Homo sapiens: one gene and its partner. The protein of the gene in region 2 interacts with the protein of the main gene of each other region in a biochemical or structural test. Each region holds a gene or a part of one and is shown on either strand. Other genes may lie near its edges.

Region 1 (7,086 bases), on a different chromosome or scaffold from region 2:
GAAACAAATAATGTTTAATTTTTTTCAGAGACAAGGTTTCACTCTGTCACCCAGGCTGGAATGCAGTAGTGTGATCACAGCTCACCGCAGCCTCAACTGCCCAGGCTCAAGTAATCCTCCCACCTCAGCTCCCCATAGTAACTGCCACTACAGGCACGTGCAACCACGACCGGCTAATTTTTGCAGTTTTTGTATTCTTTGCAGAGATGGGGTTTTGTCATGTTGTCCAGGCTGGTCAAGAACTCCTGGACTCAAGGGATCTGCTCACCTTGGCCTTCCGAAGTGCTGCGATTACAGGCGTAAGCCACCTTGCCCAGGCTAAGAATTTTTTAAAAGCTGATAAGAACTTAAAAAGAGTTATACTTCCTTAGTATGAGAATTGTATTGTGGTTATACAAGATAATGTCCCTGTTCTTCTGAACAGGAAGTGGAAAACGTCGACAATTCTCAAATGGCTCAGAAAAAAAAGAAAAACAGAGACATAAACATGGCAAAATGTTAACTAATAAATCTTTGTGAAGGGTGTATGGGTAGTAATAACACAACTTTTCTTTAGGTTTGAAATTTTTCTTTTTTTTTTTTTTTTGAGACAGTCTCACTCTGTCACCCAGGCTGGAATGCAATGGCATGATCTCGGCTTACTACAACCTCCGCCTCTCGGGTTCAAGCGATTCTCCTGCCTCAGCCTCCCAAGTAGCTGGGATTACAGGTGCACGCCACCACACCCGGATAATTTTTGTATTTTAGTAGAGACAGGGTTTCACATTGTTGGCCAGGCTGGTCTTGAACTCCTGTCATCAGGTGATCCACCCGCCTCAGCCTCCCAAAGTGCTGGTATTACAGGCGTGAGCCACCACACTGGATCTTAGGTTTGAAATTCTTCTAAATGCAAAAATCAATACAGGACTGTCCCTCAAAAGGAGTTATAATACTGAAAGAAGCGTCAACATACAGAAATGTCATGAATAAAAAAGGAATGCCTGGGAACTAGGAATGTATCTGTGCTCCATCTTCCACCACTTCAAAGAAACTGCTTTCCCCAATTATCAAAGATCTCCTTGTCAATACTCAATATATGCTCTTCACATTTTGTTTTGACTGCTCCTTCCTCCTTTCTCAAGTTTCTTCTTTCATGACCCACCCGTCGGCGTATCCCTAGGGTTCTACACTTGGTCCTCTTCTCTTCTGAGATATCTAATCCATTTCCATGAGTATACACTAACACTTTAACGACCTCCAAACATCTCTCTTTAATACCACTTTCCCAAGATACACATTCTTTTTTTATTTTTATTTTTTTTTTGAGACAGGGTCTCACTCTGTCATGCAGGCTGGAGTGCAGGGGCACAATCACGGCTCACCGCAGCCTCGACCTCCTGGGCTCAGGTGATCCTCCCACCTCAGTTTCCTGAGTAGCTAGGACTACAGGCCGCCACCATGCCTGGCTAATTTTTGTATTTTTTGTAGAGACTGGGTTTCGCCATGCTGCCCAGGCTGATCTCAAACTCCTGGGCTCAAGCGATCTGCCTGCCTCAGCCTCCCAAAGTGCTGGGATTACAGGTGTGAGCCACCGCGCCCGGCCCAACACGGTCATATGTACAACTACTCCACACATGTCCTGACCAAACTCATTATCTGCCTCTCACCTCAATCTTGCTTTTCCTCCCATCCATATGTCCTATCTCAGTTTCTGGCCTGAAGCCTAAACCTTGTTCAATGTCTAAATTTCCCTTTAAAGCAGAGGTTCTTTACAGTTTTTGTGCTCTGGATTCTGTAGTAGGCAGAATTTTGGCCCCACGACCTTCACTTTCTGGTGTCATGCGGGTGAATATGTTATATTACACAGCAAAAGGGACTTCACAAACGTAATTAAGGTTACCAGTCGACAGTAACATAGGGAGATTATCCTGGATTTTACAGGTGGTTCCAAAGTAATCACATGAGCTCTTAAAAGTAGAGAATTTTCTCTGGCTGTAGACAAGTGATGGAGCAAAAGGGGAAGCAACACATATCTGAAGGGCAGGAAAGATTCGATGTGTCATTACAGGCTTCAAAATAAAGAAAACTGCATGTCAAGGAAACAGGGACCTCTGTTCTACAACCACAATATTTACGGTAGATCTATCTGACTGTCAAAATACCAAAGTGCTCCACGTGGCCAAATAAAAGGGCAATTCCTTCCAGGACCCCAAAACGGGAGTCTGGTCCCTCTGCATATGACCCCTGTCTGTGTCGAGTTAAGGGTGTTCCTCTCCTTACTATACCTACAGAAGAAAATCTTTATTGTGTAACCAAACTTTAAAAGTCCTCCACAGTCGGCTCTGAAACTACGTATCCCAGAGAGGGGAACATCTCCTGCATCTGTTCATCCGGAAAGACAGGCACACTTCAGACCCTTAAAACCAGACCGTGCGTTAAGGGCAACGCACGCGCCAGACCTCCAGTAAATAGGCGAGTTAAAAAAAAAAAAAAAAGAAAATAAAAGAAAGAAAGAAAGAAAAGAAGAAGAAAGAAAGAGAGAAAGAGACAGAGAAAGAGAAAGAGGAAAAAAAGAAAAAAAAAAAAAAAAAGCACAATCCATAAGGGGAAATTCCGGCCGGAGAAAACAGAGAATGGAAGACTCCGGAGGAGTACTAGAAAAATCGAGCCTTCCACCCGCTACAGGTATCCCTGAGGCGTCGGGCACGAGACCCCGCTCCCAGCAGGCCTCCAGGCCGCCCCTTGCCCGGCTCCTTCGCACCGCCTGCTCCAGCAAGGAGGAGGGCGGCGCGCAGGAGGCCAGCGCTGGGGACCAGGAACCCTACCTCTCAGCGATGTAAAGGGTACCAGTGCCGAGGCCCTTCCCGTTCAGCACAGCCTCAGTGTCTGGCTGCTGCCGCAGGAGCCCCTCCGCTGGCCCAGGCGGCGGGAAACTTTTGAGGAAGCTCATAGCAGCAGAGTGCGGCAACACAGGCCCTGAGGGAGTTGGAGCACAGCAATGCGTGCACCACACCGCCCGCCCTGGAAGAGGCAGTCACCCCGGAAGAACAACTTAGTCTGCCCCGGAATCTGAACGCCGTCGACCATAGAGATGAGACATTCTAGGAAAAGCGGCGGAGGTCGGCTAAGAACGTGTGGAGTTTGACCGCGCAACACCCTTCCCCTTCTTCCTCGCCATTTCTGAGGCTTTGGGCTTCAATAACTGAGGGTTCTGTGGGAAGTCCCTCAGGATTGTCACAGTGAAACCACCACTGCAAAATTATAACTGAGACACTGAAAGCGATCTGACCTACCCAAATCCATGTTGTTTCTAACCTCCAAACTGTCCTTGTTCATTGCTGGATATAGGCTGAACTAACTTTGGGAGGAACTTAGTTTACAGTTTGAAGTTTAAAACAAAGATGATGACAGCCTTTTCCCAAAACAAACTTCCTTCTTGCCTGGGGACTGGACTGCCTTTGTAGGACTAACAAATCAGCCACAAGATTAGAAATTATGGTTTAGATTAGAAATTACAGCTGCAAGCTACAAGATTCTGACCCTCCCTAAACTGCACCTAAGATCGGTGCTTGAGATATGTTGCAGACCCTGCACTTGATGGATCAGCTGGCACCACCAGATGGATAAACTGGCTATGTGATCTTGTGCCCCCTCCCCACCAACCCAGGAACTGACTCAGCGCAAGAGGACAGCTTCAACTCCCTGTGACTTCATCTCCCACCCAACCAATCAGCACTCTTGACTCACTGGCCTTCCCCAACCTGCCAAATTATCCTTAAAAACTTGGATCCCTGGCTGGGCGCGGTGGCTCACGCCTGTAATCCCAGCACTTTGGGAGGCCGAGGCGGGCGGATCACGAGGTCAGGAGATCAAGACCATTCTGGCTAACATGGTGAAACCCCGTCTCTACTAAAAATACAAAAAAATTAGCCGGGTGTGGTGGCAGGCGCCTGTGGTCCCAGCTACTGGGGAGGCTGAGGCAGGAGAATGGCGTGAACCCGGGAGGCAGAGCTTGCAGTGAGCCGAGATAGCGCCACTGCACTCCAGCCTGGGCGACAGAGCGAGACCCCGTCTCAAAAAAAAAAAAAAAACAACAAAAAACAAAAAACAAAAAAACTTTGATCCCTGAATGCTCTGGGAAACTGATTTGAGTAAAAATAAAACTCTAGGCCGGGTGCAGTGGCTCATGCTTGTAATCCCAGCACTTTGGGAGGCCGAGGCGGGCAGATCACGAGGACAGGAGATCGAGACCAGCCTGGCTAACACGGTGAAACCCCGTCTCGACTAAAAATACAAAAACAAAATTAGCCGGGCGTGGTGGCAGGTGCCTGTAGTCCCAGCTACTCGGGAGGTTGAAGCGGGAGAATGGCGTGAACCCGAGAGGCGGAGCTTGCAGTGAGCCGAGGTCGCGCCTTGGCACTCCAGCCTGGGCGACAGAGAGAGACTCCGTCTCAAAACAACAACAACAAACTCTAGTCTCCTGCACAGCAGCTCTGCGTGAATTACTGTTTTTCTGTTACAATTTCCATCTTGATAAATCAGCTCTGTCTAGGCAACAGGCAAGGTGAACCCATTGGGCCATTACAGCAGCAACCCTGTTACAACCCTGTAACCCAGTTACATACAACCCTGTTGTAACTGCCCAATGGGATCACCGTGCCTGCTGCTTAGACAGAGCCTATTTATCAAGACAGGGGAATTGCAATAGAGAAAGAGTAATACACCGGTGGCAATGGCTCACGCCTGTAATCCCAGCATTTTGGAGGCCGAGGCGGACGGATCACCTGACGTCGGGAATTCGAGACCAGCCTGACCAACATGGAGAAACCCCGTCTCTACTAAAAATGCACAATTAGCCTGGCGTGGTGGCGCATGCCTGTAATCCTAGCTACTCGGGAGGCTGAGGCAGGAGAATTGCTTGAACCCGGGAGGCGGAGGTTGCGGTGAGCCGAGATCACGCCATTGCACTCCAGCCTGGGCAACAAGAGCGAAACACTGTCTCAAAAAAAAAAAAAAAAAAAAAAAAAAACAAAGAGAGAAAGACTAATACATGGAGTCCCTTGCCAAAGGATGCATAGGACATAGAGACCACTCATCTGGAGCTCAGAAGTCTCCCAACTCGGTTATGATGTTCTGATCTGGCCACCCCGTCCCCATCTCCTGGGACTGTTCACATCTCAGGTATACACAACCAAGTAGCATACATCAATCTAGGTCCTTATACTGCCCTAGTGCACAAGCCACGTCCCCACGTGTCAGGTGGGCAGATAAGTATAAAGGGTTAATAAGGGCAGGGTGAAGAGCTAGCTACATCAGTAAGGAGCTGGGGCACTGACTGGAAAGGAATTAATCCACCAAAATTGCAATTGATGTTTTGTTTCTTCGTTAGGCACTAAAGAGTATAGTAGTAATAGGAAGAAAGACTTCCAAAATCGTCATAATGGTAGCTAAAGTTAACGAGTGTTCTGTGCCAGGCTCTCTTCCAGGCACTTTACCTGCACTTTGCTTGCATCATCTCTTCATTTACTCTTTGCAAGTTTGTGAAGTTACTATTATTGACCCACTTTACAGATGAGAGACCTGAGGCATTAAACTCAAGAGCAATAATTTGGCCATGAGAGAACAAGTGAAATTCAAGTAAATCCCCTTGTAAACTCAGTATGGTAATACCTTTGCAGTAGGACTGCTGAGGCTGGAGGACAGGATGTGTGGGGTAGTTTTGTTTCTATCTTCTCAACAGTTAGGCTGGCATTAAATTTTTAACGTGTTTGAGATCAGCCTGGGCAACATAGTGAGACCCCCATCTCTACCAAAAAATAAATAAATAAATTAGCCCAGCATGGTGGCATGTGCCTGTGATCCCAGCTACTTGGGAGGCTGAGGTGAGAGGATCATTTGAGCCTCAGAAGTGGAGGCTACAGTGAGCCATGATTGTGCCACTGCACTCTAGCCTGGGTGGCAGAGCAAGACTCCATCTCAAAAAAATTTTTTTTTCCTTTAACGTAGACTAGTTTGTTGGTAGTGTTAAAGTGAATTAAATATGGGTTGAGGAGGGCTCTGTACTTCTATATTTGAGTCCTTGTGGATGCACTGTAACCTAAGTTAATAGGGAGATAACTTTGAAAACCTAACTTAGGAGTATTCACCTGTAACAATAGTTGAGCCTTGGCCAATCCCAGCAGCCATACTTCAACAACTCATACACTGTTGAGTGTTCAAACTGTGTTCAAATAAGGCAGATGCCAACCTGTAACCAACCCAGCTGTTTCTGTACCTCACTTCCAATTCTTGTACATCACTTCTCTTGTTTTTTGTCTATAAATTTGTTGTGACCATGAGGCATCCCTGGAATCTCTCTGAATCTGCTGTGATTCTGGGGGCTGCTTGATTTGCAAATTATTCATTGCTCAATTAAACTCCTTGAAATTTAATTCTGCTGAAGTTTTTCTTTTAACAGATGGTGTCAGAAGTGGGATCTGAAGTAGAGGTTGTAACGATCCCCAGGAGTGCTGAGTGAACAAGCAAGTTACCTGCAGAATCCACTGTGTCCTTTGATCTGTCACAGCAGCTGGGGTTCCTGGTAAGTTCTCTCTCAGATTTCAGAGCTCCACAGATTAGTGTTTTGAGCTCTCTGAGTTCCTTTTTTTTTTTTTTCTGAGACAGAGTTTTGCTCTTGTTGCCCAGGCTGAGTGCAATGGCGAGATCTTGGCTCACTGTGACCTCCGCCTCCTGGGTTCAAGCAATTCTCCTGCCCCCTCCTGAGTAGCTGGGATTACAGGCATGCACCACCACACCCAGCTAATTTTTTATATTTTTAGTAGAGATGGGGTTTCTCCATGTTGGCCAGGCTGGTCTGGAGCTCCTGACCTTCAAGTGATCCACCCACCTCAGCCTCCCAAAGTGCTGGGATTACAGGCATAAGCCACCACACCCGGCCAGCTCTCTGAGTTTCTTTGAGCAAATTTCTTTTCCAAACTAGGTTTAGAAGTTGCGACAGAAACTAGACTGGGTCCAGGATCAAATTTGATCTGGTAATTAACTGGCTTGAATCCAGTTAGAGGCCTTTTATATCTGACTAGGCCAGAAAGAAACTGGTAGTACGTGGTG
Region 2 (7,016 bases):
CCTGATAGCAAATCAGGATTAGGGTTAGTGCCAAGTCACAATGTGAACCCCAAAACCTTGATGTCATTCCAAACCCTAATGAAAACCTCAAAATCCAGCCAGTCATGGTGGCTCACACCTGTAATCCCAGCACTTTGGGAGACCGAGGCAGGCAGATTGCCTGAGGTCAGGAGTTAGAGACCAACCTGGCCAACATGGTGAAAACCCATCTCTACTAAAAATACAAAAAAAATTAGCCGGGTGTGGTGACGCATGCCTGTAATTCCAGCTACTCGGGAGGCTGAAGCAGGAGAATCACTTGAACCCAGGAGGCAGAGGTTGCAGTGAGCCAAGAGTGTGCCACAGCACTCCAGCCTGGGTGACAGAGCAAGACTCTGTCTCAAAAAAAAAAAAAAAAGCCAGGCGCAGTGGCTCACGCCTGTAATCCCAGCACTTTGGGAGGCCAAGGCGGGTGGATCACGAGGTCAGGAGATCAAGACCATCCTGGCTAACACAGTGAAACCCCGTCTACTAAAAATACAAAAAAAAAAAAAAAATTAGCTGGGCGTGGTGGCGGGTACCTGTAGTCCCAGCTACTTGGGAGGCTGAGGCAGGAGAATGGCGTGAACCCCGGGGGGCGGAGCTTGCAGTGAGCCGAGATAGTGCCACTGCACTCCAGCCTGGACGACAGAGCGAGACTCCGTCTCCAAAAATAAAATAAACACCTGAAAATCCCAGTATCCCCTAAGCTCTGATGTAAATTGACAAACCCTGACATTGTCCCAAACCTCCAAATAAACCCGAGCCCCGATACCATCTACAAACTCCTTTTCGTCCTCAGATCTTCTTACTCCCTAAGCCCCTATGTGAACCCCAAGCCCACTGTTTTCCTAACCCTGATGTAATCCCTAAACCTCACACATCCCCAACTTACCCGCACACCCCAATGTGCCCCTCTAGACACGAATCGTCCTGGACTGTGGGGAAGATGACGTATGTGTGCCCCAGCTTCAGCTCACTGCCAGCGTGTGAGGAGGCCTCCCATTCTGCCCGACCCTGGCCCTTTCTGCCTATCATACCTGCTCCACACCTTAGTCCCCTCTTTTCCCACATCCTGGGCCCAGACCCAGGCTCCCTGGCTTCACTCCTCTTTCCCCACAGGACGGGCTCCCCGCTCCTAGTTGGGGCAGATAATGTCCTGGAGCTGCAGATGGACGCAGCCAACGAGGGCGAGGGGGCCTATGAAGCAGAGCTGGCCGTGCACCTGCCCCAGGGCGCCCACTACATGCGGGCCCTAAGCAATGTCGAGGTATGGCCCCCACCCTGGGAACAGTACCCGGGACCTGGGAGGCACTGGAGCCTTGGCTCTCTCATCTCCCTCCCTGAGAGTCCCTCTTCTCTTCTGCTTTGCTGTCAAAGATGTAATTTTTTATTTTTTTTTTAATTTGGAGGAGGAATACTTGCTAATGGCACAGAATTCCAAAACTCTATTACAAAAACCAGAAAAACAAAAAAGGTTTAGGAACCAAATGTTAACAGGAACCTCTGTTAACATTTGGTGGATTTCCTTCCAGTCTTTTTTTCAATATTGACTCACACTCACATAAGTATATATTTATTTTTTATGTTGTTAATATAGTTTATAATAATGGGGGTCATACTCTAATGTTTTGTGTTTTTTATTTCCAAAATGAAAATGCCTAAAAAGTAGTAGTGCTACAGCAATACACACACTAGCATGTGACAGTCCCTTGAGACCCCACCCCAAGAAACCCCCCCCTCCCTACCTTGGCACACAAATCTTTCCAGACCTTCCAAGGGAGCTTAAATATATATATATGATGCTCTGTAATTTCTTTCTTGGAACTGCCTTCCTGAAGGGCTTTGAGAGACTCATCTGTAATCAGAAGAAGGAGAATGAGACCAGGGTGGTGCTGTGTGAGCTGGGCAACCCCATGAAGAAGAACGCCCAGGTGAGGCTGCTGGGTCGTGGTACCGGGTCTCCACCAGGGGCTCATGAATAACCAGATTTTAGGGGTGAGGTTTTAGAGCCACATAGTTCTGGGCCAGAATCTTGGTCCTCACACTCCCTTGCCACATGTCCTTGGGTGAGTGACTTTCCCTCTCTGAGCCCCTTTACCCAGTGGGCTTCCAGGTAAAATAGAAATAATAATGGTGGCCTGGTGCGGTGGCTCACGCCTGTAATCCCAGCACTCTGGGAGGCCGAGACGGGTGGATCACGAGGTCAGGAGTTCAAGACCAGCCTGGCCAACATAGCAAAACCCCGTCTCTACTAAAAATACAAAAATTACCCGGGCATGGTGGCGCACGCCTATAGTCAGAGCTACTCGGGAGGTTGAGGCAGAAAAATCACTTGAACCTGGGAGGTGGAGGTTGCAGTGAGCCGAGATCATGCCACTGCACTCCAGCCTGGGTGACAGAGTGAGACTCCGTCTCGGAAAAAAAAAAAAAGAAAAAGAATAGTGGTGATCTTGGAGGGTGAAGACTGGAGGCCACATTCAGGGCAGGGCTGTCCTAAGTGGGGCACTTGGGCAGTGACCTTGGCCCTCCTCATCTCCCAGATAGGAATCGCGATGTTGGTGAGCGTGGGGAATCTGGAAGAGGCTGGGGAGTCTGTGTCCTTCCAGCTGCAGATACGGAGGTACTGACCTGGCGAGCGTGCCTACCCACCACCCTTCCCCCGTCTGACCCCCGTGCAGAGCCCCTCAGGTCCCTTCCATACAGAAGGGTCTTTCGAGGCCAGGCGCAGTGGCTCACACCTGTAATCCCAGCACGTTGCGAGGCCAAGGCAGAAGGATCACTGGAGGTCAGGAGTTGGAGACCAGCCTGGCCAACATGGTGAAACCCCATCTCTACTAAAAATATAAAAATTAGCTGGGCATGGTGGTGCGCACCTACAATCCCAGCTACTCGGGAGGCTGAGGCAGGAGAATAGCTTGAACCGAACCTGGGAGGTGGAGGTTGCAGTGAGCTGAGATTGGGCCACTGCACTCCAGCCTTCCAGCCTGGGCGACAGTGCGAGATTCTATCTCAAAAGAAAAAAAAAAAGGTCTTTGAAGAAGCCTGGTTCCCTTTCTTCCTCAGAGATTTATGTCTGAGTCTTGGAGCCCTAGAGGAAGTTCTTTCCCAGGTCTAACTTCAGTGTGGCATGCTCTTTGTATAATTAGCTCTCTCTGAACTCTCTAAAATTCTGGCCTCACCCCCAGAAAGTCACTGGGCTGGTGTCCCTGGCCCTGTTTCTCCTCATCCCCTCCCCTCTAGCAAGAACAGCCAGAATCCAAACAGCAAGATTGTGCTGCTGGACGTGCCGGTCCGGGCAGAGGCCCAAGTGGAGCTGCGAGGGTGAGAGGCCAGGGGTGGAGAAGGGAGATGGCATTCAGGGCTCTAAACTCCAGGGGGCGCTGGGGAAACCTCACAGGCCAATCAGGGCATCACACTCTCTCTGGGGGTCTTGGGCACCTGCAGGAACTCCTTTCCAGCCTCCCTGGTGGTGGCAGCAGAAGAAGGTGAGAGGGAGCAGAACAGCTTGGACAGCTGGGGACCCAAAGTGGAGCACACCTATGAGGTATTGGGGAGCCTCGCGTCCCTGGCTGGGGTGAGCGGGTCCTCAGAACTCCGGGTGAGGCGCTAAGCTCCCCACACCCTGCCACCACCACCCCTTCAGCTCCACAACAATGGCCCTGGGACTGTGAATGGTCTTCACCTCAGCATCCACCTTCCGGGACAGTCCCAGCCCTCCGACCTGCTCTACATCCTGGATATACAGCCCCAGGGGGGCCTTCAGTGCTTCCCACAGCCTCCTGTCAACCCTCTCAAGGTAAGAGCTGGGTGGAAGAAAGACCTGGGAAGGCGGCCCCAGACCAACCACCGGGGCACCTCTGTGGGCTGGGGTTCGGGGGAGACCTGGGCCTGACCACTCCTTTGCCCCCCCAGGTGGACTGGGGGCTGCCCATCCCCAGCCCCTCCCCCATTCACCCGGCCCATCACAAGCGGGATCGCAGACAGATCTTCCTGCCAGAGCCCGAGCAGCCCTCGAGGCTTCAGGATCCAGTTCTCGTAGTGAGCAGGCTCTCTGGTCTCTGGCCCGGCCTCCCCGGGACCCACGGGGCAGAGGGGATGGGAGGAGGGAGAGGGGTCCGGGTGTGCTGTGGGCCTCTGTGGGCCACGCTTGGTCCCTGGGAGCACTTCAAGTGAACATGGAGGAGCATGCTGGCTTGTGTCTGGGGTGAGCTGAAAGACACTTGCACTTTTTAAAAGCTTCCCAGTACGTTAAGGAGCATAAAACAATGCCAAAGCAAGGTTATCATAGATCTGAGCATTGTGCGCTGGGGGATGACCCTCCCTGCATCTCTGGGACTATGTGAGCAAGCCCGTGGAAAGACAGCATCCGAAGCTTGGATCCAAGGCCCTTCCTGATGGGAAGGCCACCGCTTCCTGAACCCCCGGCCCCTTCTGCGTTGGGTCCTGGGGGTAAGGGGGTGGGGGATGATGGGGTGATGGGCCGGGACGGGCTGGGGACTGACGATGCTTCCCCTCAGAGCTGCGACTCGGCGCCCTGTACTGTGGTGCAGTGTGACCTGCAGGAGATGGCGCGCGGGCAGCGGGCCATGGTCACGGTGCTGGCCTTCCTGTGGCTGCCCAGCCTCTACCAGGTGGGGTGGGCCGTGGTGGGGCGGGGCCGGGCCTTCTGGGCGGGGACCACTTTGCTCTGGGAGGGGCGGGGTTTGGTGTGGGAGGGCAGGAAGAGAGGGAAGGCAAGGTTTACTTTGGGGGATTGCAGTGGGATTAGGTCAGAGGCAGGGCTTCCCCGCCGGGGGTGTGGGACCTGGACTCCTGCAACCAATAGGCCTCTTGTGGGTGTAAACGGCTTTCAACCCCAACCTGTCCAGAGGCCTCTGGATCAGTTTGTGCTGCAGTCGCACGCATGGTTCAACGTGTCCTCCCTCCCCTATGCGGTGCCCCCGCTCAGCCTGCCCCGAGGGGAAGCTCAGGTGAGTGTGGGGGGATGGAGCAGAGACCAGTCCTGCAGGACCCATTGTCCCCCAGTCAGTGCCCAGCCAGAAAAGTCTGAGGGGTGGTACGGGTGGGTGGCATGGCTGGAGGTCACCAGCCTGAGGTTTGAGTCTTTGTGAAAGGCAGGTGTCAAGGTGACTGAGGAGACACGTGGGTTTGCCCCCAGGTGTGGACACAGCTGCTCCGGGCCTTGGAGGAGAGGGCCATTCCAATCTGGTGGGTGCTGGTGGGTGTGCTGGGTGGCCTGCTGCTGCTCACCATCCTGGTCCTGGCCATGTGGAAGGTGAGGTGTGAAGGACGGTGGAGTCCCCAGCGGGGCACAGGCTTGGCTCTGCCCTGCCTCACAGGGAGTCAAGGAGAGATGGTGGCCCACCCAAGTGGGTAATCCAGGGACCAGGGGTCTATGTCTCCACTATTAGAATGTCATTCTCGGTCCAGTGGGGTGGCTCACACCTGTAATCCCAGCACTTTGGGAGGCCAAAGCGTTTAGATCACCTGAGGTCAAGAGTTCGAGACCAGCCTGGCCAACATGGTGAAACCCCATCTCTACTAAAAATACCAAAATTAGCCGGGCGTGTTGACACATGCCTGTAATCTCAGCTACTCGGGAGGCTGAGGCAGTAGAATTGCATGAACCCAGGAGGCGGAGGTTGCAGTGAGCCGAGATCACACCACTGCACTCCAGCTTGGGCAACAGAGCGAGCCTCCATCTCAAAAAAAAAAGAAAAAAATAGAATGTCTTTCTCTAGTAGAGCAAAAAAGGCAAAACAAACACAAAAATGTCATTCTCCTGGGAACCCTTCCAGACACATACCACTGGAAAGGATAGCACCTGAAATTCTGAGGCCTTTAGACACCCCTGCCACCAAAAAGATTCAGAGGATATAGAGGGTATAGAGGGTGTAAGTCCTGCCTTCAGGAATTCCTGGCTGGTCTCAAGGACAAGATGCACTTCTTCCTAGCCCTGCCCTTCCCCTTGAGTGAGGCAAGAGGCCCAAGGATTGGTCTAGACCCTATTCCTCCCTTCCTATGTGGCCCTGGAGGGTCACTCGCTCCTCTGCACCTGGAGGAGTCTCAAGCACACTGAAGGGAAGACATGGTGCTTTTAGGGAAAACCACGCACTAGACCCACAATAATCAAATACATATCATCATATGCTCGAGTCATGCAGACACAAACTTCAGTATAAGAAAAATTCCAGGCTGGGCGTGGTGGCTCACACCGGTAATCCCAGCACTTTGGGAGGCCGAGGTGGGCGGTTCATGAGGTCAGGAGTTCGAGACCAGCCTGACAAACATGGTGAAACCCCATCTCTACTAAAAATACAAAAATTAGCCAGGCGTGGTGGCAGGCACCTGTACTTCCAGCTACTCGGGAGGCTGAGGCAGGAGAATCACTTGAACCCGGGAGGTGAAGGTTGCAGTGAGCCAAGATTGTGCCACTGCACTCCAGCCTGGGTGAGATTTCATCTCAAAAGAAAAGAAAAGAAAAATTCCAGGTGGGGACCAGGCGCGGTGGATCACTTGAGGCCAGGAGTTTGGGACAGCATAGTGAGACTCCATCTCTACAAAAAAGTTTTTTAAAAAAAATTAGTCAGGTGTGGTAGTCCACACCTGTAGTCCCAGCTACTTGGGAGGCTAAGAGGTGAGAGGATTGCCTGGGTGACAACAGAAAGACCCTGTCTCTAAAAATAAAATAAAAAAGAAAAATTCAGAGGCCGGGCACAGTGGCTTATGCCTGTAATCCCAACACAATGGGAGGCTGAGGCAGGCAGATCACCTGAGGTCAGGAGTTTGAGACCAGCCCGGCCAACAGGGTGAAACCCTGTCTCTACTAAAAATTAGCTGGGCGTGGTGGCACACACCTGTAAACCCAGCTACTCGGGAGGCTGAGGCATGAGAATTGTTTGAACCCGGGAGGTGGAGGCTGCACTGAGCCGAGATCGAGCCACTACACTACAGCCTGGGTGACAGAGTGAGACTCCCTCTAAAAAAAAGAAAAA

The links. Proteins that work in one complex are often made in the same cells at the same time.
Region 1: the proteins of ITGA2B (region 2) and CLNS1A form a complex in vitro, tested with the Homo sapiens proteins (one study listed by BioGRID).

The regions. Positions count from the first base shown.
Region 1 is NC_000011.10:77,634,786-77,641,871, forward strand, and holds the start of CLNS1A (methylosome subunit pICln), read right to left. Parts: upstream 3,010-7,086; 5' UTR 2,930-3,009; coding exon 2,805-2,929; intron 1-2,804. UniProt on the Homo sapiens protein: Involved in both the assembly of spliceosomal snRNPs and the methylation of Sm proteins.
Region 2 is NC_000017.11:44,372,634-44,379,649, reverse strand, and holds part of ITGA2B (integrin alpha-IIb preproprotein), read left to right. Parts: intron 1-939; coding exon 940-1,007; intron 1,008-1,140; coding exon 1,141-1,288; intron 1,289-1,859; coding exon 1,860-1,952; intron 1,953-2,561; coding exon 2,562-2,641; intron 2,642-3,261; coding exon 3,262-3,342; intron 3,343-3,465; coding exon 3,466-3,565; intron 3,566-3,664; coding exon 3,665-3,817; intron 3,818-3,933; coding exon 3,934-4,059; intron 4,060-4,538; coding exon 4,539-4,652; intron 4,653-4,889; coding exon 4,890-4,991; intron 4,992-5,179; coding exon 5,180-5,296; intron 5,297-7,016. UniProt on the Homo sapiens protein: Integrin alpha-IIb/beta-3 is a receptor for fibronectin, fibrinogen, plasminogen, prothrombin, thrombospondin and vitronectin. It recognizes the sequence R-G-D in a wide array of ligands.